Linked DNA regions of Homo sapiens. The protein of the gene in region 1 interacts with the protein of each later gene in a biochemical or structural test. Each region holds a gene or a part of one and is shown in the gene's direction. Other genes may lie near its edges. The genes, in order: TNKS2, STRN, USP25 and CACNA1S.

Region 1 (7,026 bases):
ACTCTGTAAATTGTTTCCTTTTCAGTCCGCCTGCCACTGCCCCCGACCATACGCAGATATACACAAGACAGGAATTTTTCTTTTTTTTTTTGAGATGGAGTCTAGTTCTGTCTCCCAGGCTGGAGTGCAGCGTCACGATCTCAGCTCACTGCAACCCCCACCTTCCGGGTTCGACCGATTCTCCTGTCTCAGCCTCCTAAGTAGCTGGGATTACAGGTGCGCACTGCCACGCCCGGCAAATTTTTGTATTTTTAGTAGAGACAGGGTTTCAACATGTTGGTCAGGCTGGTCTCAAACTCCTGATCTCGTGATCCGCCTGCCTCGGCCTCCCAAAGTGCTGGGATTACAGGCGTGAGCCACTGCGCCCGGCCAGGAATGATTTTTTTCCAACACAACAGAATTTGTAGAGGCAAGTTGGTGGTAGGGTGGCTGTTGCTCTAATTTTACTAAAAGCAAAAGTATCTGAAATTCTTGACAGTTAATGCCCTAGAAAACAGCAAATTTCAGTAAAGAAGACTCTGCTTCTGTGAACTTATTTCTAAAAAGTAAAGAAGAGGTGACACAAACTTGGGGAGAAAGTTATCTTGATGCCCATCATAGAAATGAAAGAAATATGTGGCATTCCTTACAATCTTAGAACTCTTGGAGTAGGGGTAGGAGCTTGCATTGTAGAGTCCTAGCTAAACAAGGTAACACTTATTTTATATTTATAGTATGTTATGTTACTGTTAGTATGAGTATGCTACTGAACCACATACATAGGACCAGTTAGACCGGACTTGGATTATTATATTCAATTGTGTGAATCAAATATAAGAGGGGATTTTTTTATTCAGAGGAGGAAAGTGGAATCAGAGCATCCAGAATTTATTGCACAAGCATAGATACGAAAATTAGTGCTGCTTATTCTAGAGATGAAAGAAGACTATACCATGTTATCGTCTTCACATATGTGGAAGAATCACAAAGAGTGAGTGGATATTACTTGTGTGGCTTTGGGAGTCAAAACTAAGGCCAGCAGGTGGAAGGTTACAAGGGGTCAGACAACCTTTAACAATATTCAGCGATCGAACTGTCTGGAAGTATCCAAGCAGTGGCTGGATTGGCATTTTTCAGAGATGTTGTAGAGAGGATTTCAGCCTAGTTCGACCAACAGGTTATAATCTCACTAGTACAAGAAAGTGGGATGATTCCTCCAATTGAAGGCTTTAGCTGCTCAGCTACCAAAGATATACTAGCTTTTGTGATTGCCATTCATATCTTTTCCCAAAATGATAACCATTGGAGACCTCCAATAACCTCTCAGTAACATTTTCTTCTTTGGCTGTAGGCCAACATCATAGTTACAAGAGATGCACAAAATTTATCCAACACTCTTCACCTAGAACTACAGTTATAGATTGTTGTTTTCAGGATTGGTTTTTGCTATGGGAGATAAATCATACATCAGCAGGAAACCCTAGTGTCAAATAAAGATCAGTCTATTTAGGAATTCATCATCTTTCTTGACTTATCAAATCTCCCAATGTATTATCAAGACTTTGAGCTATACCTTTGCCCTCAGCGCTTGCTGGATTTGGAGGTAGACAGTTGACTTCAATAACAAGAGTTTGGAGTACTCCTTTCAGTGTACCCCCATTCAGATGGTCAAAATTTCATCACCGTAGAGGCCATGGCGTTCTTTTCCAAGTTTCTACTAATCTGGCCAGACAGTATGTCTATCCCAAGTTGAGATGGGCAAAGTCCTCTCCCTTGTATTCTTCGTTCTTAAGAAGTATATGTGGGAAATAATTTTCTGGATCTTAGCAAACTAAAGTTAATAGTAAATGAGGCCCGGGCACAGTGCCACAGGCTATAATCCCAGCACTCTGGGAGGCAAAGGCAGGAGTATCACCTGAACTCAAGAGTTCAAGACCAGCCTGGGCAACAATGGTGACACCTCATCTCTACAAGAAAATAGAAAAATGAGCCGGGCATGGTGGCACAGAACTGACACTCTGGGAGGCAAAGACAGGAGTATCACTTGAGCTTAAGAGTTCAAGAGCAGCCTGGGCAACATGGCGAAACCCCATCTCTACAAAAAAATAGAAAAAGTAGCCAGGCATGGTGGTGCAGGCCTGTAGTCCTAGCTACTTGGGAGGCTAAGGTTAGAGGATTACTTGAGCCAAGGCTGCAGTGAGCCGAGATTGCGCCATTGCACTCTAGGCTGGGCAACAGAGGGAAACCTTGTAACACAAAATAGTAAATGAGAAGTTTAAAATGACATTCCTCAGAAAAAATGTGTCACTGAGAGTCCTGGCTAAAGGTTGCTTGAAAGCTGAAGGCTGTTTGATTATACCTTCCAATCTCCCAGACTACAGGAGCTTTGTTTTGTGGCATTTGTTGACATTTTTCCAGAACTTTGCCTTTGGACAAAACCCTGTGTGATAGCCTACCTTTAGATATTGCAAGACATCACCATCTCATATGGGACCAATTGTGTTATCAGTGATTAATCCCACCTTTGGACTATGAAAGACAGGAGGGGGATAGCATTTAGTTAAACTTCCTAAGAGTCTAAGTTGGTTTCTCTGTAGGAACTTGACTGCCTCACAGCTTTTGGGAAACCATTCAGATGAAAGCATGTTTCCAGTGTAGCAGCAAAATGTGATATTATTAACAATAGTCATAGTTAGCAAGCAGTACCTGGAGTTGCTGAAACTGATGGCATCTAGATAAGTAATAAATTTGACAAGAGGCTGCTTTTCTCTGTTTTCACAAATCATTAACACCATATTCTTTGTGAGGATCCTTTCCTATTCCAGCAGAGTATTAGACATGCATTAAACAAATGTTTGTCAAGTCCTGCTATATGCCAGACACTGACCTTGTCCCTGAGTAAACTGAAATGAACAGGACACAATACCTGCCATTAACTGACACATGGTTAATGTGGTCAACAAGTATACTTTACAGATAGGCCTGCTTTGCTTCACTGTAAGTACTATATAGTAGATTCATACTCTGTGTATGGTTTCATCAGAATTTTCACAAGTAGAACAGTGTTTGAAGTTGAGTGCTGTTCCATAATTACAAAATAAACTACAGTGTGTCCTGAGCAGCCATGACTACCAACTTTATTTAGGCTTCTGGTTCCTCATAAAGAGATCCTTAGAATATGGAGATTTACATTGACTCTGATGATATGCCTATTCATGTTCTACCTGGCCAGTGAGAACATGATCAGAATATACCCTGCAGAGCATTTTTTCTTCCAGAAATTGGTGCTTAACAGAAGTACTTTGAACTATTCTTGAGACCATAACAATAGAGATTTTATCAAGGATTACTCCTCAGTTTGGGAAGTATGGTTTTTTGGGGGTTGTGGGGGTGAGGCACAGAGTTTCACTCTTGTCGCCCAGGCTGGAGTGCAGTGGTGCGATCTTGGCTCACTTCAACCTCCACCTCCCAGGTTCAAGCAATTCTCCTGCCTCCTGCTTCAGCCTCCCGAGTAGCTGGGATTACAGGTATGTACCACCACGCCTGGCTAATTTTTATATTTTTAGTAGAAACAGGGTTTCACCATGTTGGCTATGGTGGTCTCGAATTCCTGACCTCAGGTGATCCACCCACCTCTGTCTCCCAAAGTGCTGGGATTACAGGTGTGAGCCACAGTGCCCAGCCAGGAAGTATCTTCAATCTAAAGATTTCGCCAAACTCCAAGCAACTTTTTTTTTTTTTTTTAAACATAGCTACCTATTGACTGCCTCCAAATAATTTCCTTTAAGTGCCCAAGATGTGGCTTCAAACATTAAAATCTCAGACTATTAATCTACTGTCTCAGCATAGCAGATTACATTCACTCACATATTGTAGTCCTTACAGTGTGACTGTAAAATCATACCTCTACTATCAGTCACCAGACTGGTTTCAGACATCTTAATGACTAGGGAATCATGTTGATACAGACATTGACACAGAAGTCTGTGTCTTGGAATGTTGGTAACTATGTGGATATAATCACTTTACCCATTCTACCCATATCGATCGCCTCAGCTAAAACTTCAGTTTCAGTTATGTCTTTCTCTTTAACTCTGATTTCATGCAACCCTCTTCTCTTTCCAGCCTTATTTTGACAGAAGGCTACTACTTGACCTTCCTTTAGATCACCAATCCTTTGGGACAGATATCTTCCCAGTTGACACTGTCTCTCATAACAGCTAGTTATTTTACTCCAGCTATTTCTGTGCACATCTAACTCTCCTTTCTGGGGGAGTTAACCTGTGAGTCACCATTTTGATTACTTCAGATATGCTTATTACTGCTGAAGAATAGTAATCCTTATTCTAAAATGCTTGGGTACATCAAATAACTTTATAGAGGTAGCTTTACAGGTTTTTCTTTATTTTGATTCTTTTTCTCTTACTCTCCAATTTAAGAAGCCTTTTTCTAAAAGCACTTCCTGCAGGTGGGTGCTAAGTGGTTGGGATAGCAGAACCATAGATTAGGGCAACTGTAGATAACCTACTTGGGGAGGACAGTGTGATCAGCAATGCCCAGGAAGTGATCAGGAAGGAAGGCTGAAGTCAGGGCTAATGACAGCAAGAGCTGACCTTCCCCTCTGACATTTTCCTACTTGGCTTCTGCAATGCCATTCTTTCTCTTTTTTTTTTTTTTTTTTTTATATTTTATCTAATATTTTATTTACTGATCTCTCTGAAACATGCCAAAATTCATATAGCTAAGGGAACTTACCATGCTAAAATGTTGTTCAACATGACAAATTTATACAAAACATATTTCAATGTAGTGCCTTCATTTCATTCTTGAGGAATCAACATTACATTTAGGTGGTGAAATTTAGGATACAAATATAATTATCAAATATCGTACTTCTAGTTTACTGGAAAACATAACAGTTGTGACAGTAACACCTAACACCTTGGTTAATTAAAGACAGAAAATGGGCAGGGGTGTCACAGAAGTATGCAAGGATTTGACAGTTCAAACTAATCCATAGCCCTTCTGAGAAACTACAGATGGAAAATATGTAGTAAATATTTCTGTAATATGGTGGTTTCAGTACATTATAGCACAGTGATCATCATTCCATTCATACACTCAAATAAATGCTGCTTCTGATCACTGAAAACTAGATTCAAAGTCATTGCTCAACAAGCTGATACTACAAATCCCTTATATTAACAGGTACTTTAAATGTGGAAATAAGGCAAAGCATACTTGTTAGTCACAATTACTTTTAGATATAATTGAGACTACACTGCTATACATAATTAGGTACACAGTATGTATAACAATGCATACTATGGTGTGGGGTTAATTCCAATTACCATATTTTATATTTATTGGTCACAACAGCATACATTTTATGCTCCAAAATACATGGATCTGACAAAATGGTTACATTTAATGTTCTTTTAAGGAAAGATGAACTAAATTTAAGAAGAATTGGTTTTTCCTAATATCTCATTTTCAAATTACTGATACAAATTTGCCAGAGAAACAATTACATGTTTTACCTAACATCAAATAATCTCCAGTTTCTAAGACAGATGCATTTCTTGTTCAGTTTCCAAAAGTAAATAAAGGCTTTCTAACTGAAAACATTTGCATCCCTAGCTCTCTAAAGTAAACATTAAAAAGAAAATTACAAAAAATGACCTCTAAGCTTCTGAACAGTCCACTTAGTTACATAAAGTACTTTCTGTCCCAACACTTTCTCTAATTCAAAAGATATTTACTTCCTAAGTACACGACAAAGTCTTCATTTCAAACCATTCACTCAGTTTCCATGGTAACATTGCGGGCTTCCTTGGCTACCATAAGTCGCATTAGTTGACTGTGGAATTTCTCAATCTTCTTTACATCTTGAGCTTGGTCTGTTTTATACACCAAACAAACTAAATCATCTGTTACTTTAACACACAAGTTCCCATCAGAATGCCTATATTTGAGAACCACACGTGCCTTCATAGGGTCAGCGAGGTAAAGCTTCTCGGCAGCGCGGCTGAACTCCTCCCAGGTCTGGTACTGCGGCATCGTGGCCTAGAGTGGAAAAGTAAAGAGAAGCAAGGCCTCAGAACCCGGCCCAACAAACTACCTACGTCCGGGAGTCGCCAACCGACGCGAGTCCTGCAATGCCATTCTTTCTTAGCTTTACTTCTCAGACTCCTTTTCATATACTGTGATACCTTAATTCAGCAAATGTCAACAAATTGCTCTGTACCATGTACTCTAAAGGATGCTGGGGAAGTAGTGATGAATTAAGATGCACATGGCTCTTGTCCTTCATGGAACTAAGAGTCTAGAAAATGCCGGGCGCAGTGGCTCATGCCTGTAATCCCAGCACTTCGGGAGGCCGAGGCGAGCGGCTCACGAGGTCAGGAGATCGAGACCATCCTGGCTAACATGGTGAAACCCCCCCTTTACTAAAAATACAAAAAAAATTAGCCAGGCGTGGTGGCGGGCACCTGTAGCCCCAGCTACTCTGGAGGCTGAAGCAGGAGAATGGCATGAACCCGGGAGGCAGAGCTTGCAGTGAGCTGAGATTGGGCCACTGCACTTCAGCCTGGGGGACAGAGCGAGACTCTGTCTCAAAAAAAAAAAAAAAAAGAGTCTAGAAAATAAGGCAGTAATTACAAATTTTAATAAGTGACAAATACTGCTATGAACAGCAAAGACAAAAATCCCTGTTGTATGGAGCTTGCATTCTAGTGAAGGAGGTGGGAGATAGACCAACTAAATGGTGTGAAGATAGGAAAAAATGTGGATGGGCAGAAGGGACTATTTTAGATGGGATGGTCAGGGATAGCCTTCTTAAGGAGGTGACATTTAAACAAACCAGGTAATGAGTAGAAGTGAGGATGCTTTGTGCAAGGGAAGAGCATTCCAAGCAGAAGGGTGGCATGTACCAAGTCGCTGACATACTTGACAAACTGAAAGTATATTATAGTTGGGAAAGGGAAGAATCGTGTGAAATGAAATTAGAGAAGAAGTTGAGGGCCAGTTCATGAAGGAGCTTTTAAG
Region 2 (7,026 bases), on another chromosome or scaffold:
GCTGTTTGAGAATTTGGGGATTCCTGTAGATGTCACTTCCTGTCCATTATGAATGCCATATTTTCAGGAAAAACTGCCATCCATCATATAGTAAGATAAGTGAACAGAAGGAAGTATAGCCAAAGTGCTAAGGGACTTCAGAGAGGGAGAGGACCTCTCTGTTCACTTCCTCAGGGAGTGTGAGTTGTGGTTTCTCCAAAGATGAATTAAATTCAAATGATTTCGTATCAACGTGCTTTAAAAATATTTAGACAAATGGAAGGACAAAAGGAAGGGGGAGGAAATACTCAGTTTTTTTAAGGGGGAAAAATACGTGCTTTTAAATTTTAATTTAAAATTTTTTAACTTTATATTTGTATATTTCCAAGCTTGTTTTGATTTACTGTAGCCTGTCAGAAGAATAATAGAAACCAAGAATCATATTTTATACTGTTATCAGGTGCTATTGTTTATATATTTTACTTTCTCTGAAATCTAAGTACCTTTGTGGTTGTTTTTCTCCTGATTTTGCATTTTTACTGTTTTGTATAGATCCTTCTGTTTTACGAGGCCCTCTGCTAGGCCACACGGATGCAGTCTGGGGTTTGGCTTATAGTGCAGCACATCAGCGTTTGTTGTCCTGTTCAGCAGATGGCACTCTGCGTTTATGGAATACAACTGAGGTTGCTCCAGCACTAAGTGTATTTAATGATACTAAAGGTACATACTTTAAAAAATTATTTTGCTGAATCCTCTATAAAACAGTTTATTCTGAAAATAAGCAAGCAGATAAATGATTCCCTGAACTCTTTAAATTTAATTTGAAAGTTTTTGAAGCCACGAAAGTGTATTTGTTTGAATTTCCAACCTATATATAATTTTGTTTTGTTTTGTTTTGTTTTGTTTTGTTTTTTTTGAGACGGAGTATCACTCTGTTGCCCAGGCTGGAGTGCAGTGGCGCAATCTCGGCTCACTGCAACCTCCATCTCCCAGTTTCAAGCAATTCTCCTGCCTCAGCCTCCAGCACACACCACCACGCTCAGCTAATTTTTGTAGTTTTTTTAGTAGAGACAGGGTTTTGCTGTGTTGGCCAGGCTGGTCTGGAACTCCTGACCTCAAGTGATTCGCCTGCCTCAGCCTCCCGAAGTGCTGGGATTACAGGCATGAGCCACTGCACCCAGCCTATAATTTTTGAAAGCATAGTTTTTGGTGAAAGAACACACAGATTTTAGATTTTAAAAAATTAAGATATAATTTGTATGTAGTGAAAAACAGATATTAAGGATACATTTCAGTGAGTCTGATAGATGAGTACACCCATGTAACTCATACATCAATCAAGACATAGAATCCAGGTGTGGTGGCTCACACCTGTAATCCTAGCACTTTGGGAGGCTGAGGCAGGAGGATCACGAGAGGCCAGGAATTTGGGACCAGCTGGGCAACATAGCGAGGCCCTGTCTCTACATTTTCTTTAAAAAAAAAAAAGACTATATTTGCCCATTCTCGTACCACTATAAAGAAATACCTGAGACTGGGTAATTTGTTTAAAAAAAAAAAAGGTTTAATTGGTTGACGGTTCTGTACAGGAAGCATAGCAACTTTTCTTTGGCTTCTGGGGAGGCCTCAAGCAATTTACAATCATGGTGGAAGTCAAAGGGACAGGAGGCATGTTTTACATGGCCGGAGCAGGAGGAAGAAGGGGGTGGGACCTATTTTTAAACAACCAAATCTTGTGAGAACTCTATCACGAGAATAGCACCAAAGGGGAAAATCCACCCCATGATCCAATCACCTCCCGCCAGGCCGTATCTCCAATATTGGGGATTATGTTTGACATGAGACTTGAGTGAGGACACAGATCCAAACCGTATGAGAGATAGAACATTTCCTTTATCTCCCCAAAGTTCCTTCGTGTCTTTCCAAGTCAGTCCCCTCCTTTCCTTATTCCCAGCCAGAGGTACCCACTGTTGTGATTTCTTTCATCATAGATTAGTTTTATCTACTCAAACGTCATGTAAATGGAATAGTAAAGTATGTGTTCTTTGTATCTTGCTTTTATTCTTCATTATAATGTTTTGGAAATTCATTTGTGTTATATCAATTATTTCTTTCATTTTTATTTGATAGTATTTCATTAAGCCATAATTTGTCTATTCATTTATATCTTGATGGATATTTGGGTTGTCTCTAGTTTTTTGCTATTTTGAACAAGGCTGCTATGAACATTCATATATTTTCATTATAGGTGTGTAGAGACTTAGAATTGCTGGGCTTTCAGGTGGATGTTTATTTTACTTTATGTGAAGTCACTAAAAATTTTTCAAAAAAATTTTGTAGTTGTACCATTTTACACCTTTGACAGCAGTGTATGAGCATTCCAGTTGCTCTGCATCCTTACAAACATACAGTATTGTCAGTCTGTTTAACTTTAGCCATTCTGGTGGATGTGTAGTAGTATTTCATCATAGTTTATTTGCATTTCTTTGATGGCTAATTTTGATGAGCATTTCTTTTGTTTGCTTATTGGTTATTTGTGTATCTTCTTCTGCAGTATGCACATTTTTGAACTGTTACCTTGCTGTAGTTAGATTTTGAGCCAAATGAAAAAAATCAGATTATTATATTCACTTTATATGTTTCCTTCTATTTTTATGTTTATAAATAAGCTCTAAGTTTTCATGTATTCTAGATGGTAAATAAAAATACCTTCTGTATTCTTGAGCTATTATAACTTCTTTCCAGGCTTTGATGAGTTGTCTTCATATGGTATTTGCATGACTCTAACGATAAATAATAATTTTAAATTTTACTTTTTAATTTCTCTATTTTTGATGAGCTAACATCCCTAATAAGAGATGGGTTTTTTAAAATGAAGAATTCCCACTATGTCACTCTAAGCTTGAGGTTGGGCGGAAGCAGCAAAATTTGTAATTCATACATGTTTTCCATTTGCTCTCTAAATAAAGGCTTGCATTCCATGAATATATCAGTTGAGTAACAGGTAGAAGATCTGCTAAGCAGGTAAGGGAAATAAATAGACTAGGGCTAAAAGTTACAAAGAAATAATCTCCAATGAATAGTTATGAGCTAATTCTTATTCTAATGGTAAGCCTTGTTTACTTCTTAAGGAAACCATGCCATTTTTTGTTTTGCTCTATTTTAAGCAGATTGTCAAGTAGATGGTTTAATTGCCATTCTATTTCAATATGTTCTCTTTCAGAACTGGGAATCCCTGCCTCTGTGGATCTAGTGAGCAGTGACCCGAGCCATATGGTAGCATCATTCAGCAAGGGATATACAAGCATTTTTAACATGGAAACACAACAACGCATTCTCACTTTAGAATCCAATGTAGATACAAGTATGCATACCAATTTTAAATTGTCTGTGTTTATTTTTTTAACTTAATCAAAATTACGACTACTAGAGTCAGCTGTGAAAAATATTTGTCATTATAAAGCTTTCTGTCTCTTAACTTTCAGAACACAGTTACTTAGAAGGTTGTAATTATTTACCTTTTAAGAATTTGGGTTAAGTTTATGTACATTTATAACTATACTGTTTGAAATAGCATTTGAGCTGTTATGGGTCAAGTTTTATTTTATACTAAATGATTAATTTTCAATTCTATTTGAAGAAAGCCATATTTATTCTGAATAGGAAATTCTATTTTTCATTTCTCGTAATTTCATATTTTAAATCAACTTAATTTTATATTAATAGTATGATTTGGTACAGCTCAATACAGATCATGTTGTGGCACTCAGAATTCCAAACCTGAAGCTTCTTATTGGATGCAGGAAGTCAGGAAATAAGTGCTTTTTCAGGTTATGAAGAAGATATTACAGACTCTTTTTTGGTTTTTGGCTTTCTTAACCATTGCTTTCTGTCGTTAGCCATAATCTAGACAATCACAGTTTAGGTTGCAGTTGATGAAGAATACGACATACATATACTCTTGTTTTAATCTGAGAACTAGCTTTAAAAGTGATGATATGTTGTGTGTGTGCACATGCATGTGTGAACATGTACATGCATATGTTTACATATGTTCTTGTGGTGTTCTCACTCTCTGTCTCTCTCTCTCTCAAAAAGTTTCTTTATTCCTTTGTGGTTTTCATCATTTTCCCTTCCTAACCTGTTGTTCATTGTTTTCTTCTGATATGCTGAGACTTGTTTGGGGAAGTAAGCATGAATAGAACTTTGAGCTACTTGGATGTAAACGAGAGAGACAGGAAAATAAATTAAACTCAGGTGATAGAATTGGAAAAGGAGAATTTTTTTCAGCAAGAAATTACAGGTTTTAGACTCTCAATAAATTTAAAATCATGTTTAAATATATGACTCAAAGCTACAGTAGCAAAATAAAAAACTAATATGAAATTAGAAAGGATGAGAACATTTTTGTAATTACCTTCAGAGATTATATGGCCAATTTGTGAACATCCTGAGTGGAAATAGTGCTTTTTAATGACTGCAGGTTAATAAGATGTCAAGTCTGGTAGATAAGATGGATAAAGAGAACTAGGCGAGTGAATCCACATTTTCCCCCAAGAGATGTGACTCTAAATTAATAGGACTTTTTACTTGACACTGGAAACATTTTGAGAAAACTTCCAAGAATGTTTTTAACAAAGGCAACATTACTGGAATAAATGATCATTATTTTGAGTTGTAATATGTCCTGACATTTTCTAAATTATGTTTTTTACTTTTAAAGTTGTATAAAGAAAACTTAAATTAGTCTCTTATTATGTTTTACTGTGAACTACCCCTTGTTATTTATAATTGATTGTGTTGTTCTGTTTTGGAATTTAGCATATTTTTTTAAAAAAATGAAAGGACCAAACAAGCTTCAAGGAGAAAGTGAGTTTTATATAGAGTTTAAAGTGATGAAGGATGTTTGTTAGAATAGGAATAAATTACCCTTCTTCTCATTGATGTCAATGGCGATTTGACTGTGGTAAAGTCAAAGGTAGTTGAAGCAGATACGTCACAAGCTAGGTATGAGTAGTGTTCTTTGCATTCTGCCGACTTCTCTGATTTATCATCAAGTGGAGAAGCTTCCTTAAAAGTGTTACCAAATAAGAACTTTCTTTTGCCTGTTTCCATGATTTGATTTCAATCATATTTATTTTCTAGCTCTCAAAGCAATTGAGGCTATTCTCTGAAACGTCTCTCTCAGAATATATGGGATATTTCACTTAAAGTATTTCTTTTTTTGTTGTTACTGTTATTCTCTTGCTGGACTTTACCACGGGTGTTGCTCAATGGAGTATTATCTGTGGAGGAAATAATGCGTAGTCTGAATTTTATAAATAAACATCTCTTTGTTTAGGATCTAAACCAGGTGTAACTGACTAAGAACTTACTCCACATGGTCAAGTGAGTTTTTGTTTTATATTTATTTTTTTTTGAGACAGAGTCTCGCTCTGTTGCCCAGGCTGGAGTGCAGTGGTGCGATCTCAGCTTACTGCAACCTCCACCTCCTGGGCTCAAGCGATTCTCCTGCCTCAGCCTCCCAAGTAGCTGGGACCACAGGCGTGTGCCACCATATCTGGTTCATTTTTGTATTTTGCGTAGAGACAGAGTTTCACCATGTTGGCCAGGCTGGTCTCGAACTCCTGACCTCAAGTGATCCGCCTGCCTCGGCCTCCTAAAGTGCTGCGATTACAGGTGTGAGCTACCGTGCCCAGCCACATTTTATATTTAAATAACAGGCTGGGTAATTACCTGCCACTAGCATTGGGAAAAGACTGTCTTCAGTTTTTAAGATGTTATATTTCTAGGAGCCACATGAAAATCCTGTAAGATTAGACTATTTTTAGCTGTATTTTCTATTATGTGAATATAAACTTGTAATACCTATTCTAGGGTTCAAAAAATTTTTTAAACTCTATTTTGAAATAATTTTAAACTTGCAGAAAAGGTACAAAAATAGTACGAGAACTTCTGGCTACCCTTCACACATATTTAGCAGTTTTTAACATTTTGTCACATTTGCTTTTTCACTCTATATATGTGTATAATTTTTAATTCTGAACCATATGAGAGACGTCATGCTCCTATTCCCCTAGATCCTTTAGCGTGTAATTCTAAGATCAAGGGCATTCTCTGATGTAGTGTATTACAATGATCAAAATCCGGAAACTTAACATTGACACAATACTATTATCTGAATTACTATTTATATTCAAATTTTGAGAGTTGTTCCAGTAATATATTTTACAAGGACACCCCTTCCTCTCCCTGGACCATAATTTAATTTTTAAAACTTTGACATACCTTCAATTAGTGTTTTCTTTATGTCAGTTTTTCTTTTCTCTTAAAAAAAGCTTAACAGAAATCACTGAGGTTTTAAATTACTGATTTCTTTTTAATAAAAGCCTTTCAGGAAGAATGTGTGATCATTTAGGAACCAATTTTGACAGTTGTGTGATCTGCATGAACCATCAGGTTGGGAGAGAGTCAGAAGTTAGAATAGGTACTGATTTTGTCACCTGATTGTGGAGGAGTCACAACTTTTTCTGAACCTTGATGTGTTCACTGTAATATAGGCTTAATGATATGTGCTTGCCTGTCTCATTGTGTGTATAATTGAAGTTTCTTTGGAACTTACTAACACAAAAAATACAGTTAGGATGCTGACTTTTAGGATTCCAAACCTAGTTCTGTCAAATGACCATTTCTATTATGATGAGGAAGAGTGATAAAGGGATTTAAGGATTAAGAAGCCCTCTTTGTCATATATATCTTTAGATGATAATGATGTGATACAGAACTTTGTATGCAAAAAGAGCTGAGATTTAAATTTGAGAATTATCTCCATGTAAGTGATGATAGAACTTACTTAAAGTAGCAAAATCTCACAGAACATTGTAGAATGAACAGCGTTAGTGGCTCTAGACTAAGCCATAGATGGCACCCACATATAGCAGGAAATTGTAATTTATAAATATTTCCAGATTTATCAGGCAATTCTCTTTCCTAACATTGAAATTTTGAAAACAGTCACAGAATAAATGAACTAAAGACAAATAATGA
Region 3 (7,780 bases), on another chromosome or scaffold:
CTCCAGTACCTTTCCTTTGCCTGTTAGCCAAATCTGTTTCAAACCCATCTGACTTACGAGCGTGAAACATGCAGGGATAGTCCTCTCTGTGATTTACAGCAGAACAATAGACGCTCAAGGAATCAATCTCGTAGCAAATAGGAACTAAGGCTTAAGTAACTTGCCCACGATCACAGAGCTAGAAGTCCCTGGGTTGTTCTTCAGGGATCATGTGCGCTGAACATGGGAGATAGGTCTTGGAAAGTGACATTAGTCACATTCTGACATGTGGTTTTCTCTGCCCATATATATCATAGGATAATTTCAGGGAAATGTGTGCCCACCAATATGGTGGGAGAGACTTTGTCTTTTGAGTATAGGTGAATGGACTAAAAAGTGATGAGAAAAGGTCTGAGGCCTCCAAGCCATTTTCAGTGTGCAAGTATAACTTCGGGCCTGTTCAAGGTAAGTGAAAGCAAGTGATGCAGGCAAGAAATAACACACTTTTGCACTGGCTCTCCGTTGATAAATTCTAGCTGTTTCTCCATAGTCCTTACTTTCTAGGTGGACCTTGCAAAGCACATTAGACTAGATTGCTTTTCAATGCACAAAACTTGTTTCCCCCAAAATGATTCTAATTGGAAGTGCCAATACTGGCAGAAAATGTGTGCAGGTACTAGCCTTTAAAGTGCTAATGCATCTCTTACCAATCTACGAAGTTACAGGATGGGGCATGAAAAAATATATTTGACGGCACAAAAGTATGAAGCATAGGATTAAGTAAAGCAGATTGAATATGACTGTTACGGGCTGAATTTTGTCTCTCTAAAATTCATAACCTCTCTAAAAAGTCCTAACCCCTAGCACTTCAGAATGTAACTGTATTTGAAAACAAAGTCTTTAAAGGGGTTATTAAGTTAAAATGATGCCATCTGGGTGCGGCTGAAATCAAGTATGATTTATGTCCTCAGCAGAAGATGAAGAGATACTGTGGGCACACACGGACCATGGAAAGAGGCAGTGAGAGGGTGGCCATCTGCAAGGCAAACAGAGAGGGTGCAGGAGAAATCAACCCTGCTGGCACCTTAATCTTGAATTCCCAGTGTCCAGAGCTGTGAAAAAATACATTTCTGTATTTTTAAGACACCCAATCTGTGGCATTTTGTTATGGCAGAACAGACAACTAATACAATACCAAAGAAGCAACATCTAGAATCCCTCAAAATGTGAGGCACTATTGAGGGCTGGAGAAACTAATAATGACACATTTTGTCATATAGAATAATATGGCTGGGCTGCCAGGACCACAAAGCTATCCACTTGGAATGAGAAGTTAGAGTTAGATGTGCACCACAAAAGCACAAATACATTTGTTTTCTCCCCTTCATGGCTGCCCACTTAATTCAATAAGCATTTTATTGTGCATGTATTAGGCAGGCAGTACTCTTGCAGGTTGTAATCTATGAACACCTGATTGCTAAATAGTACCATTATGACATCATAGAAGACTCCTCTTTAAATGATTGCTTATTGTTTTCTTTTTGCTCTTTTACATGGAGTCTTGCTCTGTCACCCTGGCTGGAGTGCAATGGCACATCTCGGCTCACTGCAACATCCGACTCCTAGGTTCAAGCAATTCTCCCTGCCTCAGGCTCCGAGTAGCTGGGATTACAGGTGCCTGCCACCACATCCGGCTAATTTTTGTATTTTTTAGTGGAGACAGTGTTTTGCCATGTTGGCCAGGCTGGGCTTGAACCCCTGACCTGAGGTGATCCGCCCACCTTGGCCTCCCAAAGTGCTGGGATTACAGAGGGGAGCCACCGTGCCCAGCCTGCTTATTGTTTTCTTATTGGTGGAAATAAAATTATCCCAGAATGCCAACACTCCTAAAGGAGGAAAATAATTCAGATCCTCATTGCAGTAGATTTAAAACCACTCTTTTGTAATGGAAATTGTCTAAATCTGCTCCATGGATTCAACAATTCTTTGCTGACATGCCTGTAATCCAGGTAGCTACTTCAGAGGCTGAGGCAGGAGGATCCCTTGAGACCAGGAGCTCAACACCAGCTAGGGGGGAAACAAAGAAAAGTCCTACAAATGTGTTTTGGCAATATGGTAAACTTTTGGTATCCGGAAATGGATTTTTAACCCCTTTCTAAAGATACCTAAGGCGGAAGAATACCAATTTTCTTAGTTGACATATAAAATACAATACTGAGTATTGCTAGAAATAACGTTTTGACCCAAAACAGAAAAATAGTCTTGCAGTTTGTCTTTGTCTATTTTATGCTGCTACAACATAATACCTATGAATGGGTAATTGATAATGATCAGAAATTTGTTGGCTCACAGTTCTGGAGGCAGGGAAGGTCAAGATGGATGGGCCGTCATTTGGTGAAGGCCTTCCTCCTGTATCATTGCATGGTGGAAGAGCTAAGAGAAGGGGAGAAAGAGAGAGAGGGAAGGAAAGGAAAAGGGAAAGAGGCAAGAAGGAGCCAAACTCGTCCTTTTATAAGGAAACTGTCCTTTTGATAGGGACTGCACATTTGTGATAGCACCATTAATTAATTCATGAGGTCAGAGCTCTCATAACTGAATCACCTCTTATTAGGGCCCACCTCCACACTGTTGCATTGGGGATTAAGTTTCCATCACACCGTTTTTGGGGGGATACATTCAAACCACAGCATTGTTACACACAAAATATTTCATATTATATGAAATATGTCACTTAACATTTTTACCTGAATGTCAACAACATAGAGTAATGTAGCAGTTTAGAAGTTATTAAATAATATCTTGAGGATATATAATTCCGACACACATGCATATTAAAGCTGACTCATACAACACAATTGTCACGGCGCAAATTTAAAAAATGAGTTAGGAAATCCCAGCGATGGGTTTTGTGTGCCAATTTATCTCAATTGCTCAAATTTCTCTAATTATTCATCCCAATTGTAAGCCTTCTAAAAAGGAATGCCTATGAGGAAACTTGAAATTTTCTTCTCAATGTTCTTCAGTACAACAGTTAAAAATATTTAAAGAAATGCTGAGTAAGTAGGAAACCCTCAGAAGTAAGCTGAAAATGAACAGTCTCAGTGGGCAAATAGGTCTACCATATAAAAGCTCTATTTGATGATTATCTATTGTAAGATCATCTTTTTTTTTCTGTATGGAAGTAACAAATTTAACTCAGAGAAAAGTTGTATTGCCAAATTCTTGAAATTAAACCTTAGTATCTGGCAACATTTTTCCTCCCATGGTACTAGATTACTAGATTTTTATGTTAAATTTAATTTTCTTGAATTCAAATGTATGAGCTTGATTTCTAAAAAACAAACAAACAAACCAAAAAACCAAAACCCTCATATGGAGAAACATGAAGTTAGCATATAAACAAGAAAAGAAGAAACTTTGATCTATAAATGAAGAAAAATGGGTTTTGATAAGCTCTCTTTGACAGGTCACCCTCCTTGGGCTTCAGAGTTATAAAAAAATCGATACGTGAGATTAGAGATGTGACAGTATTTCTAAATTTCTGTTTCCAACCGTTTCATGACTTTTCATTTCCTCTAGAAAAGACATAGGATATTAATATAATAAGATTTGCAATTTGTTAAATATCAAATGAGTCAACAAATATGAAGCTTCAAGGAAAAGGTGACAACAGGTGGTACCAGACATCTGAGCTGCAGAACAAAGATGGTTGTAAAGTGCACAGAACTGTTACAAAGCCTTAAGAGCTACTATAATCCATGATTATTAAATAACACCACATACTATTTCAATTAGCATTTGCCAAGCTTGCTTTCCTTGTCATTGGATTAAAAATTATACCCGGATTTTCAAGTGTATTCTATTTGTGACAATATGCATTGATAATTTCTCTCCTCACACTGCTGCACTCTCACCTCCGTTCCCAGATTAGCTCCTGGAACTCGAGATATTTTTGTGGCTAGAGATTGCTTTCTTAATGTTAGATTTTCCTTACAATTCCATATATAGTCAAGCATTCCATGCATGGTAGTTAATTGTTTGCTTAATTTGGCAACTGGGATATTAGAATTATGTATCATTAGGCAGTGATATTTTTGTAAGGTTGTTTGCTAGATAGATCCTATTTCATTTATATTAAGTCTTGGGAAGATAAACTTTATTTTTCCAGAGCCTAGCAGTGACTGACACATATTCGAATGAATGAAGGTAGATAGAAAATGTCTATATTCATTTACGTAATGATTAGTTAAGGAGAAAAGTACTTCCCAGCATAAAGATTTCTGGCAACCCTTTGCTTATTTGACTTTTCCCTTCAGGCAAGTTCAAGGCTTGTGAAATTCCTAGAAAGGCGAGGGGAGAGAACGCGTGACACAGAAAGGGGCCGGAGTTCGGGACCCTACGCAGTTTTGGGACGTTATGGGCATGGAGGGAAATGTTTGCTTTGGAGGCTTTGGGTAAGCTAGGGATCCGACAAGCCCTGGGCGCAGGGAGGAACGCTGCCCTCCGGCCTCCAGTCGCGCTCCCCGAAGCCCAGCGCCAGCGTCGCGCAACCTGCCGCAGGGGCGGCTCCCGGGCCAGGCAGCCAGGCGCGCCCTCGCCCCACCCGGGAACGCCAGGCCCGCGCAGGGAGGGGCGGGGCTCCATGGCGGCCCCGCCCCGCCGCCCGGAGGGTCACAATGTAGGGTTAGGGCGGCCGGCGGGCGGGGCTCTGCGGGGGAGGAGCCGCCGGGCGGGGGCGGGGATGGCGCGTGGGGGAGGGGAGGGAGGAGGACTCGCGGAGGGAGGAGGACAACGCCATTCCGGGCGGCCGCTCCCTCCGTCCCCTCTCTCCCTTCCCCAAAGCAGCCCGCGGACCGGCAGCAAAGGAACGTGCGAACGCGTGACGCCGCCCGACTGGCTCGCGCTCTCCCGTGCCCCGGCGTCCTCCGCCCGCTCATGGCCCGGGCCGCCGCGGACGAGCGGCGCTGAGGCGGGCCGCGTGGAGACGTGAGGCGGCCGCCGTGGCCCTCACAGTCGGCGTTTCGCCGCCTGCCCGCGGTGCCCGCGCACGCCGGCCGCCATCGCCTTCGCGCCTGGCTGGCGGGGGCGCTGTCCTCCCAGGCCGTCCGCGCCGCTCCCTGGAGCTCGGCGGAGCGCGGCAGCCAGGGCCGGCGGAGGCGCGAGGAGCCGGGCGCCACCGCCGCCGCCGCCGCCGCCGCCGCGGGGGCCATGACCGTGGAGCAGAACGTGCTGCAGCAGAGCGCGGCGCAGAAGGTGAGGCGAGTCCGCCAGCCGGCGGGCCCCACTTCTCCTTCCGACGGGCTGTCCTCTCCCGCTGCGGCCGGGCGCCCCGGCCTCGCCGCCGCCGCCTTCCCGGGCTTCCTCCCCGGTCACCCCCGGCCCCTGCCCATCGCCTCGGGGGCGTCGCGCCCAGAGCCCAGCTGCGTGTGGGAAGCAGAGTGTAGTTTGCGGGCTTCAATCCACTTCCTTCTGCCGATTGTTTTCCCGTAGCAGACGGTGCCAGGTATTGAGAGCGACCCTCACATTCCTACAGTGCTCTGTGTGGCATCTTAATGAAACTTTATTCTCTCCCCTTAAATGAGAAAGAATAGCTAGTTGTCATCCTTTCTGAACCGATTTTGTCTTTCAAAGGTAGTAGTGTACCAGGCCTGCTATTTTGCAAAACGGTCTCCACCAAAATCGAATTACCTGCCTCGCGGGGCAGGCGTGTTGACCAGGTGGACTCTAGAAGTAGGTGGTTTGCTTGGTTTCTTTTCCTTTTAAGGTTTCCCTTTCTTCTTCTTCTTTTCTGTTTTTTTTTTTTTTTTTTTTTTTTTCAATATAGAAACTGTCCCTAAGAGAGGAAACCTTTCTGGCCATGTTATTCCAGGAATCTTTTGTCCCCTAAGTTTGACCTTGTTCTTTCGTTCACCCTTTACTCTTGCATCAGTCACACATTCAAATGGTCACTCACTAAAGAAAACAATTAAAAAACTGTTTGTGAAACTTTATATCTTTAAAGTGAATAGAGATCATTCTGCTATTTTAGATTTTGCTTTCAGAATCTTAAGTGCACTATCATGGCTTGCACCATGTTCTGAAGAGTAGTTGGCCATGATTTAACTTCTTTTTTTAATTTTTAATTTGCGTGAAAAGCATTTTGGGCAAAAGAGTAAACCGTGCCTTAGTTGTGTTGGTATTACGGGGACAGTTAGGGTTTACTGTGATCAACCACCAGAGTTATGTTTGGTTTATCTGGGTGAGTAATGAATGCCCCACCCTGTTGTAGATTTGGTGTAGATTGCAATATTCTACCTGTGCTTGACTTTAGAATAAGACCTGTTCTAAAATGGGCTGTCTACATACAGCCTGCTAAATTTTTGCTTTGAGATTATTTTTAGAATTTTATGATACTGCTTTAAAGTAATCGAAGATACTCAAGTTTGGAAAGCAAGGATAGTGCATTGTTATTTTAGGCACGTTGGGAAAGTTGTTTTTGAGACTTGTATGTTAGTTGATATTATTGGTAAAGTTAGAAGGATATTGCACACTGCACTTTATTTACAGTGAAATAATTCAAGATTTAATAATGAGAATTTAAAAGAGTTTCCTTCCTAATCCTCCCTATTCTATTTTGAATACCTTCAAGTTCAATTTTTAAAGACTTAAGGCTTAGGAAAGAGCACATGGTCATGTGAACGCTAAGCAATATTTAATATGTATGGTACCATTTGTTTATAATTGTCTTCAGTGTTGAATATTAAAGTCTGTTTCAAAGTGAGAAATACCAATTTTTCACTTCCTAAGTTTGAACAATGGGAAGAACTTTGTAAGTTTAGGATTTTTTTATTTTCATTTGATTTTGACTAAACTGTATTAAATAACTATGCAGGCTCTATTGTATGGTTCAGAGGTTATGCATAAAATTGTAGAATCAAGAATCAAGTTAACGAAAGTGATCTTGGCTGTCGAGTCCAATTTCCTACTTTAATGAATCCCCTCCACACACAAAGGGAGTAGTAGTTAATTCAAAATATTATCATTATGATGCTACTTTTAGTATGGCTGTGTTTTAGATCATTTCATTGTTATTGGGGATTTTTTTTAGAGAAACTTTTATACTTCCATAATATTTAGATTGTTTTACAGAAGAAACACTTAAATGTGTTTGCTTTCCGTATTAATACACGATTACTTTGTTACTCATATTAGAACTATTTAAAAATATTTATATGGATACAAGTAAACCATCTACCTCGATAAGTTGACAGATTTAAATCCGTCAAGCTAGTAACCAGGAAGCGGACTTAAAGCTGGTAACTAGGAAGTGAACTTCACACTTAGAAGAAACAAAAGTGAAAGTCTGTTTTTACTCAGACACTTTATGGGTTATCTAAAAGGAGAGGTGTGTAGTGTATATTGCATAGCCAACATTTTAGCCAGTTTTCTTCTCACCTTAAAAAACTGTGTGTACATATGTGTTTTTAAATTTTAAGTATTTACTATTTAAAATTTAAGTATTTACTATTTAGCTATATTATTTTCAAGATTTTTAAAACTTTTATTTTGCAGATGGATGTAAGTTTTTTTGTTGTTTGCAGCACCACACTACACAAAACTTTCATGATTTTTTGGTTCGCCTATAGAATTCATTAGTCTTTGTCACAATGTAGTATGATGAGGCAAGAGGCTGCCTTTCCCTTTTGATGTGTTCTTTGCTTGATTGCTGGAGTTTGGCCAACCCAGGGACTTATGAGATGTAGTAAAACTGCAGAAAGCTGCTTTTCTGAGGTTTAGGTATTTCAGGTGAGGTGCAGTTGGC
Region 4 (7,026 bases), on another chromosome or scaffold:
TTATTTAATCCCTATAACTACTCCTGTGGGGTAAGTAACATTATTAGACCCATTTAAAAGACAAAGGAGACTGATATTCAGAGAGTTTAGGCACATTACCCAGGGTCACCCACATCTATATCTTGTGGTAGGGCCTCCAGCTTGGTCTCTCTGATTTTAGAACCTCTTTTTTTTTTTTTTTTTGAGACAGAGTCTCACTCTGTTGCCCAGGCTGTGTGATCTCGGCTCTCGGCTCACTGCAACCTCCGCCTCCTGGGTTCAAGTGATGCTCCTGCCTCAGCCTCCCAAGTAGCTGGGATTACAGGCGCCTGCCACCATGCCCAGATAATTTTCATATTTTTAGTTGAGATGGGGTTTCGCCATGTTGGCCAGGCTGGCCTCGAACTCCTGACCTCAGGTGATCCACCAGTCTCAGCCTTCCAAAGTGCTGTGATTATAGGTGTGAGCCACCACACCTAGCCAGAACCTGCTCTTGTACAGGCTGTGTTGCCAAGGTGATGGGTGACGGCAGAAAGACTTCTAGGGGAAGCCCTCTTATAAACAGTGGCCTCAGGCTCCCTAGGGGACAGAACAATGGAACCACCTTTTCAACAGGGCTTTTTTCCTGCACTGAAACTGCAGGGCCTGGGAGGGAGGAGGCATATTTGCATGTGTCCAGGGCCTGACACATCTCTGCCTTTCCTTTATGCTGGTTTCCATGGGAATCTATCTTGAGCTGATGGGAAGCTGGGATTCTAAATGTGTGCTTGCTATGAGGGGAAAACACTCTGAGCTCCTGAGTGTGGAAGGAGAGTGGGATTAAATGTTGGCAGGGCCAATGCCACCTTTGCCGGCAAGGAAGGCATTTCTTAAACTCTGGGCATTCTACACCATAGGGTTAGTCTCCATGTCCCTGAATGCAGGGAGAGCTCTAGGTCTACCCCACCCTTCAGGATTTCATATTTTTGGGCCTCAGTTCCCTGTGACATTGACTACTTTTGTAAAAAAACTCTGCCCCACCTTGGAGGATATTAAATTTTACCTCTGCTGGATGCAGTGACTCATGCCTGTAATCCCAGCACTTTGAGAGGCTGAGACGTGAAGAAATCTTGCATCCAATAGTTCAAGACCAGCCTGGGCAACATAGAGAGACTCCCGTCTCTACAAAAATTGAATTAGCGGGGCCTGGTGGTGCATGCCTCTTGTTCCATCTACTCGGGAGGCTGAAGTGGGAGGATTGCTTGAGCCTGGGAGGTCGAGGCTGCAGTGAGCCAAGATCATGCCACTGCACTCCAGCCCGAGTGACACAGTGAGACCCTGTCTCAAAAAAAAAAAAAAAAAATTACATCTTAATGGTTATGTCATCTTCCATCCTGAAACAAAATTGGCTCCCTTAACTGTTTCACGTGGTCCTGTGTATGTTTTTCTTTAGTTTGTGGGCTGGAGTTGCAAAACCTTGGGTTAGGCCTAGAGTTCATAGAGACAGTATTATGAGTTCCCTGCAAGTCGGAAACCTAATCAGAAATGTTTCCAAAGCAGCAAATGCCACCTGGCATGTCAGAGCTCTATGGGAAATGAATGCTCAGTGAGGACTCCTAACCTGACCCCTTAATTGTGAAGCCCAGAGAAAGTCGGTGATACCCAAGGTCGCTCAGCCACCTTCGAGCTCAGGGGTCCTCACTGTTCATGTCCACAAAACCCAGCAAGAGGGAGATGAGAGGAGTCAGAGTAGAAAAGGGCAGTAGGCACTCTCTCTCTTGCCCTATTGGCTGCTTTGTAGGTAGCAGAGAAGGGTTGGGGTCTTTCCAGTCATCCAGAATAACCCGTAGCTTTCAAGAAAGGAGGCCTAAGGTTTAATTATTCATGACCTTTCTCATTCATTTAACGAATGCATCTTTAGTGTCTATCACATCCCTGGCACATACTGGGGATATCACTGTGAACCAAATAGACACATTTCCCATCTTCACAGAGCTTCATTACATGGATTAAACAAGTAAATATAATAAAACCAATTAAACAGGTAGTTAAAATGAAATGGGAAAGGTTCAAGATTTGGGGATATTATGGTAGCATATTGACAGAGAACCTAAGCTAGTCTTGAGATCAGGAAGGCTTCCCCAAGTATGGGATGTTTAACCTGAGACCTAAAGGTTGAGGACAGGGACAGCTCACACAAGTGCCACCTATGCAGTCCCAGAGGACTCCCACTCAGAAGGGCCCCACATTTGGGGTTGAATGCTCTGTGGTCAAAGTATTGAGATTTTAATTAATTTTATCTTTGAATTTATGATTTGTAAGTGAAGTCCATTGGGACAATGGCACATGCACCTCAAGCTTGGAACCTTGGCTCACAAAAGGTCCTGACTTCTGCCATCTCCCTGCCTCTAAGGAGGGGCTCTCAGCTTGATGTTTTGCCCTCTGGGGTCCTGGGCCACTTGGCAGAGGCCTGAGTGGGAGAATGGGAAGGGCCGTGTCTCAGGGAAGGACATGGCTCTGGTTGTCTCTACCCTGGGCTGACATTGCTGCAGTCCATTCAGTAAATGACCTATGAGGTTGAGCCTCCAAGGCCCTCCCCGATTCTGGGTACTTACTGTTTCCCAGGAAGCAGAGATTGCAACACCCTTGGGTGCCGGATGTCCACTATGGGTTGAGGTGGTGGGTCTGAGTGAAGGGGAGATGCCTGGCTCCACACCTCCACCTCTGGCCAGGGCACAGGATGTCGGGCTGTGGGATGGTGAGGGTGGAGGGGGAAGATTAGGAGGAGGCGCTTGTGGCAATCTGCACTTGCCCTGCACAACACTGAACAGCAATCAAAAGACACCACAGTAGGCTGAGAAAGGGGCTGAAAGAAAGGGAAAAGCTTTATATTTAGTACCTTCATCAGCACTCATTTCCTACTGTTTGAACGTGGGGGCCCACATTTTCACTTGTACTGGGCCCCCCATTATGTAGCCTGGCTGTGAAGGAGCGCATTGTAGAAGGCCAAGCGGGAGAGGGGATTCTGGGCAGAGGAAGCCACGTGGGCAAAGGGCTGGAGGCAAGAGACAGAGAGGTCAGGGGGGGATTTAGAAAAATCTCTCAGGCCCCATGTGGAGCATGGATTGGGGTGACGTGGGGTGAGATGGGAAGCAGGGAAGGGGGCAGGGAGCCCAGGGAAGTCATCCAGGCAGGAAACAGGGGAGGCTGGGCCAAGGCACTGGTGATGGTAAAGATGGCTGTGAGGTGGCCTTAAGAAAGACCTGCCAGGTGGAATCCATGGTGAGGACTGGAGGTGGGGATGGAGGTGTGGGGGAGGGGGAGGATGACACTTGGGGGTCAGAAGTGGACAGAGCAGATGGCAGTATCACTTACCAAGACTGCAGATGGGGGTAGGGAGGAGGAAGGTGGTGAGTTCAACTTCAGATGTGTGGTGATACAGGTGCCTGTGTCCACTGATGGGTAATTGGATTTGCAGGTCCAAGCATTTTATGACAGAGGTTTCCTCACTTTGGCACATGCCAAACTGGCTGGGTGGGGCAGGGGCGGGGATGGTTGTGGGCAAGAAGGGCTTCCCTCAGTTGCCGTGTGTGCGAGCAGGGCCGGGGGTGTGACTGCTGTCTGTGGGAATAGGCTCCCTTGGCAGTGTCCCTCCATATCCCTTCTGCCAGCACTGGCTGAGGGTAATAGACTTGGGGCCCGGGTTTCCTGGGGCTAGAGGTACACCTCTGACTCTGCCTGCTCTGTGTCTGTGGGAAATCCCAGGATCTTCCCTGAATAGAAGAGGAAACTGAGGCCCAGAGAGAGCAAGGAGTCCTGGGAATGAATATGCAGCTGATCAGAGGGTGGCAAGAGGAGGATCCAGGATGCTGACATCCTGGCCAACTGTGGGATGTCACAGTGGCACGGGCCTCTGAAATCAGCCCATTATGGCATGGTGGTTATAAAAATGGGTTCTGGAGCTAGAATCTGCTTTTGAGCCCAGGCCCACTCACCTACTAGCTGTGTGATCTTAGACAAGTTATGTAACCTTTCTGTTCCCTCAGTTTCCTCCTTTATAAAATGGGGATGATATTGTATACTTGAGAGAGGTAACTGGATGAGTGAAGACCTTCTAAGTTGTAGTGCTTTATCTATCAACAGAAGGAACTTTGATCATGCAGGCCCCACAGAGCAGGCTCACCAGCCAAAAAGCCTATAGTCACAGAGACCCCCAGGTTGTTCTAGATTCAAAGGGTCTAACCCCCAACAGTTATGCCAAAGGATTATTTCAGGTAAAGAATTCCTCTTCACCCTGCCCATCGTTTGTCCCTGATTTCTCTTTAACTCTGTGTCTTCTCTCCTTGAAACCCCTAACTTTTCTTAATGGCTTTCCTGATCACCCCTCCCCAGTCCTCCAGCAAATCAGCAGCAGCAGCAGCAACAATGACATTCAATATTTATCGATTACTTGCATATTGTCAGTCACTGTTCTAATGCCTTATATGTGTTATCACACTGAATGCCCATGAGGCAGGTACTTTTATTTTTCTCATTTGTACAGAGGAGTAAACCACAGCGCAGAGAGGTTAGATCACTGCACATGCCCAGGTGGCTCTGTGGGCAGGCCTACATCCTTTATTGGGCAGGGTTACCATTCCAGCCTAGGCCAGGCTGAGGGGACCAATGTGGAAAAGCAAAAACAATTATCAGACTTCCTAATTGTTGGGCAGACATGATAAACTGATTGCTTTTGCTACATTATCTCATTTCACCCTCAAAGCAATCCTATGTCAAAGTATGATGTTCAAAAAGTGAAAACACAACTGTGAGTAAAATATCCAAGGAACACATATCAAAGATTAGTTCAACTCAAAAGAGAACAAGCAGGCGTGTGAAGCTGAGTTAAAGGGAATTAGAGCAGCAGAAGTTATGACACCGGAGAGAGAATGATGGAATAGGATTGCTAGGTTAGATACCAAGCTGGTTAATGTCCTACAGGGCAATAAAACTCTAACCATTGGGGTTATCTTCCTATCAGGCAGAATTCATTTGCATCTCTAGAGGACAGAATAGTGAGAGCTAAACAAAGTTACATTCCCTCCTAGGTCAGTGGTTTTCAAGGGATTGGGGAGGGGAAGTAGTTCTGCCCCAGAGGACATTTGGCAACAACTGGAATTGTGAGGGGGAGGGGCAGGGGCGGAGATGTGTCCTACTAGCATCTAGTGGGGTAGAGGCAGGGGCCCTGCAATGCACAGGACAGCCCCCTCCCACCAACAAAGAAGTATCCAGACCAAAATATCATTAGGGCTGAGGTTGAGAAACCCTGACCTGGATAATTAGATAATCCTTGGCCAGGCCTGTTATAAAATGCTCCAACATGATATTACAAAGATATGGCATCCTTTCTTTGCTTTATTTCCAAGTTCTGGATAATTTAGATTTTTCTTAAGTAGATGGTGCCTGCTCTCCTCGAGGGCAGGGCAGGGCAGGGCAGGGCCTGGCAAGCTCTGCAAGATGGCTGCCCATTTGGCCCCTCCTGGGCTGCAGGGTGGCTTCCCACCCCTCAGGCATCAGCAGGCTCCACCAGGCCCCTGTCGCATTCCTGGGGTTCAAGTTGCTGCAGCGTCCTCCACGAGGCTGGAGCCTAAGCCTCTGGCAGCCAGGGCGTTTGTCTTTTTATAGGGTCTGGAATGCGCTCGCCAACTCTTGTGGCCAGCAGCCCATTCCCCTCGCCATCTGGGGAGGCTGGGGCCTCAGAAGGACCGCAGCTCTGGCCTCACCCCTTAGAGATCCAGGACCTGCAGAGCACAGGGTGGTTTGAGCCTGGGCCACTGTACAGAGAAGTGATGGTGCTCCAAAAGGGTCTGTGGAAATGAATGAAAGCCTGGATTTTAGACCCACCTGGGAGCCTGCCCTCCCACCACTGCAAGAACTCAGGTCCCCTTTCAGGGCACTTAGATTCTCCCCCGCCCATCCCAACCCATGCCCCTTCACACCAGGCACAGGGGCTGCAGACACTGTAATAGCTGAACAACAGAAGCCTTGGAGGAAAGCCTTGGAGGAAAGCCTTTGCCCAAGCTTTGCTAGCTCCCTGGGGAGTCGCAGGAAAGGACGGCCTCTCAAGTCAAACCAACCTGCCTCCAATCTAGACTGGTTGGCAGCTTCCTAAACTCTCTGAACCTCCATTACCTCATCTGTGAACAGAGGACCACAATATCTTTCTTTCTTTTTTTTTTTTTTTTGAGACCAAGTCTCCTCTGTCACCCAGACTGGAGTGCAGTGGCACGACTTCACCTCACTACAACCTCCACTTCCCAGGTTCAAGCAATTCTCCTGTCTCAGCCTCCCGCATAGCTGGAACTACAGGCACACGTCACCACACCTGGCTAATTTTTTTTTGTTTTTAGTAGAGACAGGGTTTCACCATGTTGGTCAGGCTGGTCCACAATATCTTTCTTTTCAGGACTGTTATATCCATGAGTGCAACAACCTCGTGTCTGACCTGGCACACAAGAGTTGCTCAATAAATGTTCATTCCCTTCCTTCTCTGACCTCCCAGCACTAACAGCCCACAGCTGAAGTCACACTGAACCCAAGCCTCGGGGGGCAAAGACAGACCTGGGGTGGATTGAGGGCGGGATCTGACAAATGTACCCAGGTGTCCCAGGCATACTGTATCTTTCTCTCCCCTCTGCCTGGCATAGTGGTTGAGACCATGGAGTCTGGAATCAAACTGTCTATACATATCATGGCTCTGCCTCTTGGTAGCTATGTGATCCTGGAGAAATTAATCCCTCTGTGCTTTGGCTTCCTCATCTGTAAAATGGGATAAGAGTACCTACCTTAGTCGGCTGTCGTCCGAAGCTAGGGAGGATGATGATGGACTGCTCCGCACAGACTGGGATGCGTGTTGGGTATGGGTATGACTGTATGTCCACTCTCAGTGGGAGCTGGGCAACACGGAGGAGTTGGTGGTCCTGTTGCTTGCTGATGGAAATATGTCGGGCCTTCCTTTTCAACTGGTTCCTCTATTGGGCCCAAGGGTTGGGAGTAGGAGACAGTATCCGAGGCTGACGAGGGCCTGCC

What was found.
Region 2: the proteins of TNKS2 (region 1) and STRN interact in a biophysical measurement, tested with the Homo sapiens proteins (one study listed by IntAct).
Region 3: the proteins of TNKS2 (region 1) and USP25 interact in a biophysical measurement, tested with the Homo sapiens proteins (one study listed by IntAct).
Region 4: the proteins of TNKS2 (region 1) and CACNA1S interact in a biophysical measurement, tested with the Homo sapiens proteins (one study listed by IntAct).

What each region holds. Positions count from the first base shown.
Region 1 is NC_000010.11:91,801,401-91,808,426, forward strand, and holds part of TNKS2 (poly [ADP-ribose] polymerase tankyrase-2), read left to right. Parts: intron 1-7,026. UniProt on the Homo sapiens protein: Poly-ADP-ribosyltransferase involved in various processes such as Wnt signaling pathway, telomere length and vesicle trafficking.
Region 2 is NC_000002.12:36,851,529-36,858,554, reverse strand, and holds part of STRN (striatin), read left to right. Parts: intron 1-531; coding exon 532-699; intron 700-3,202; coding exon 3,203-3,343; intron 3,344-7,026. UniProt on the Homo sapiens protein: Calmodulin-binding scaffolding protein which is the center of the striatin-interacting phosphatase and kinase (STRIPAK) complexes.
Region 3 is NC_000021.9:15,725,207-15,732,986, forward strand, and holds the start of USP25 (ubiquitin carboxyl-terminal hydrolase 25), read left to right. Parts: upstream 1-4,775; 5' UTR 4,776-5,187; coding exon 5,188-5,232; exon of another isoform or gene 5,233-5,482; intron 5,483-5,796; exon of another isoform or gene 5,797-7,780. UniProt on the Homo sapiens protein: Deubiquitinating enzyme that hydrolyzes ubiquitin moieties conjugated to substrates and thus, functions in various biological processes including inflammation and immune response.
Region 4 is NC_000001.11:201,102,401-201,109,426, reverse strand, and holds part of CACNA1S (voltage-dependent L-type calcium channel subunit alpha-1S), read left to right. Parts: intron 1-7,026. UniProt on the Homo sapiens protein: Pore-forming, alpha-1S subunit of the voltage-gated calcium channel that gives rise to L-type calcium currents in skeletal muscle.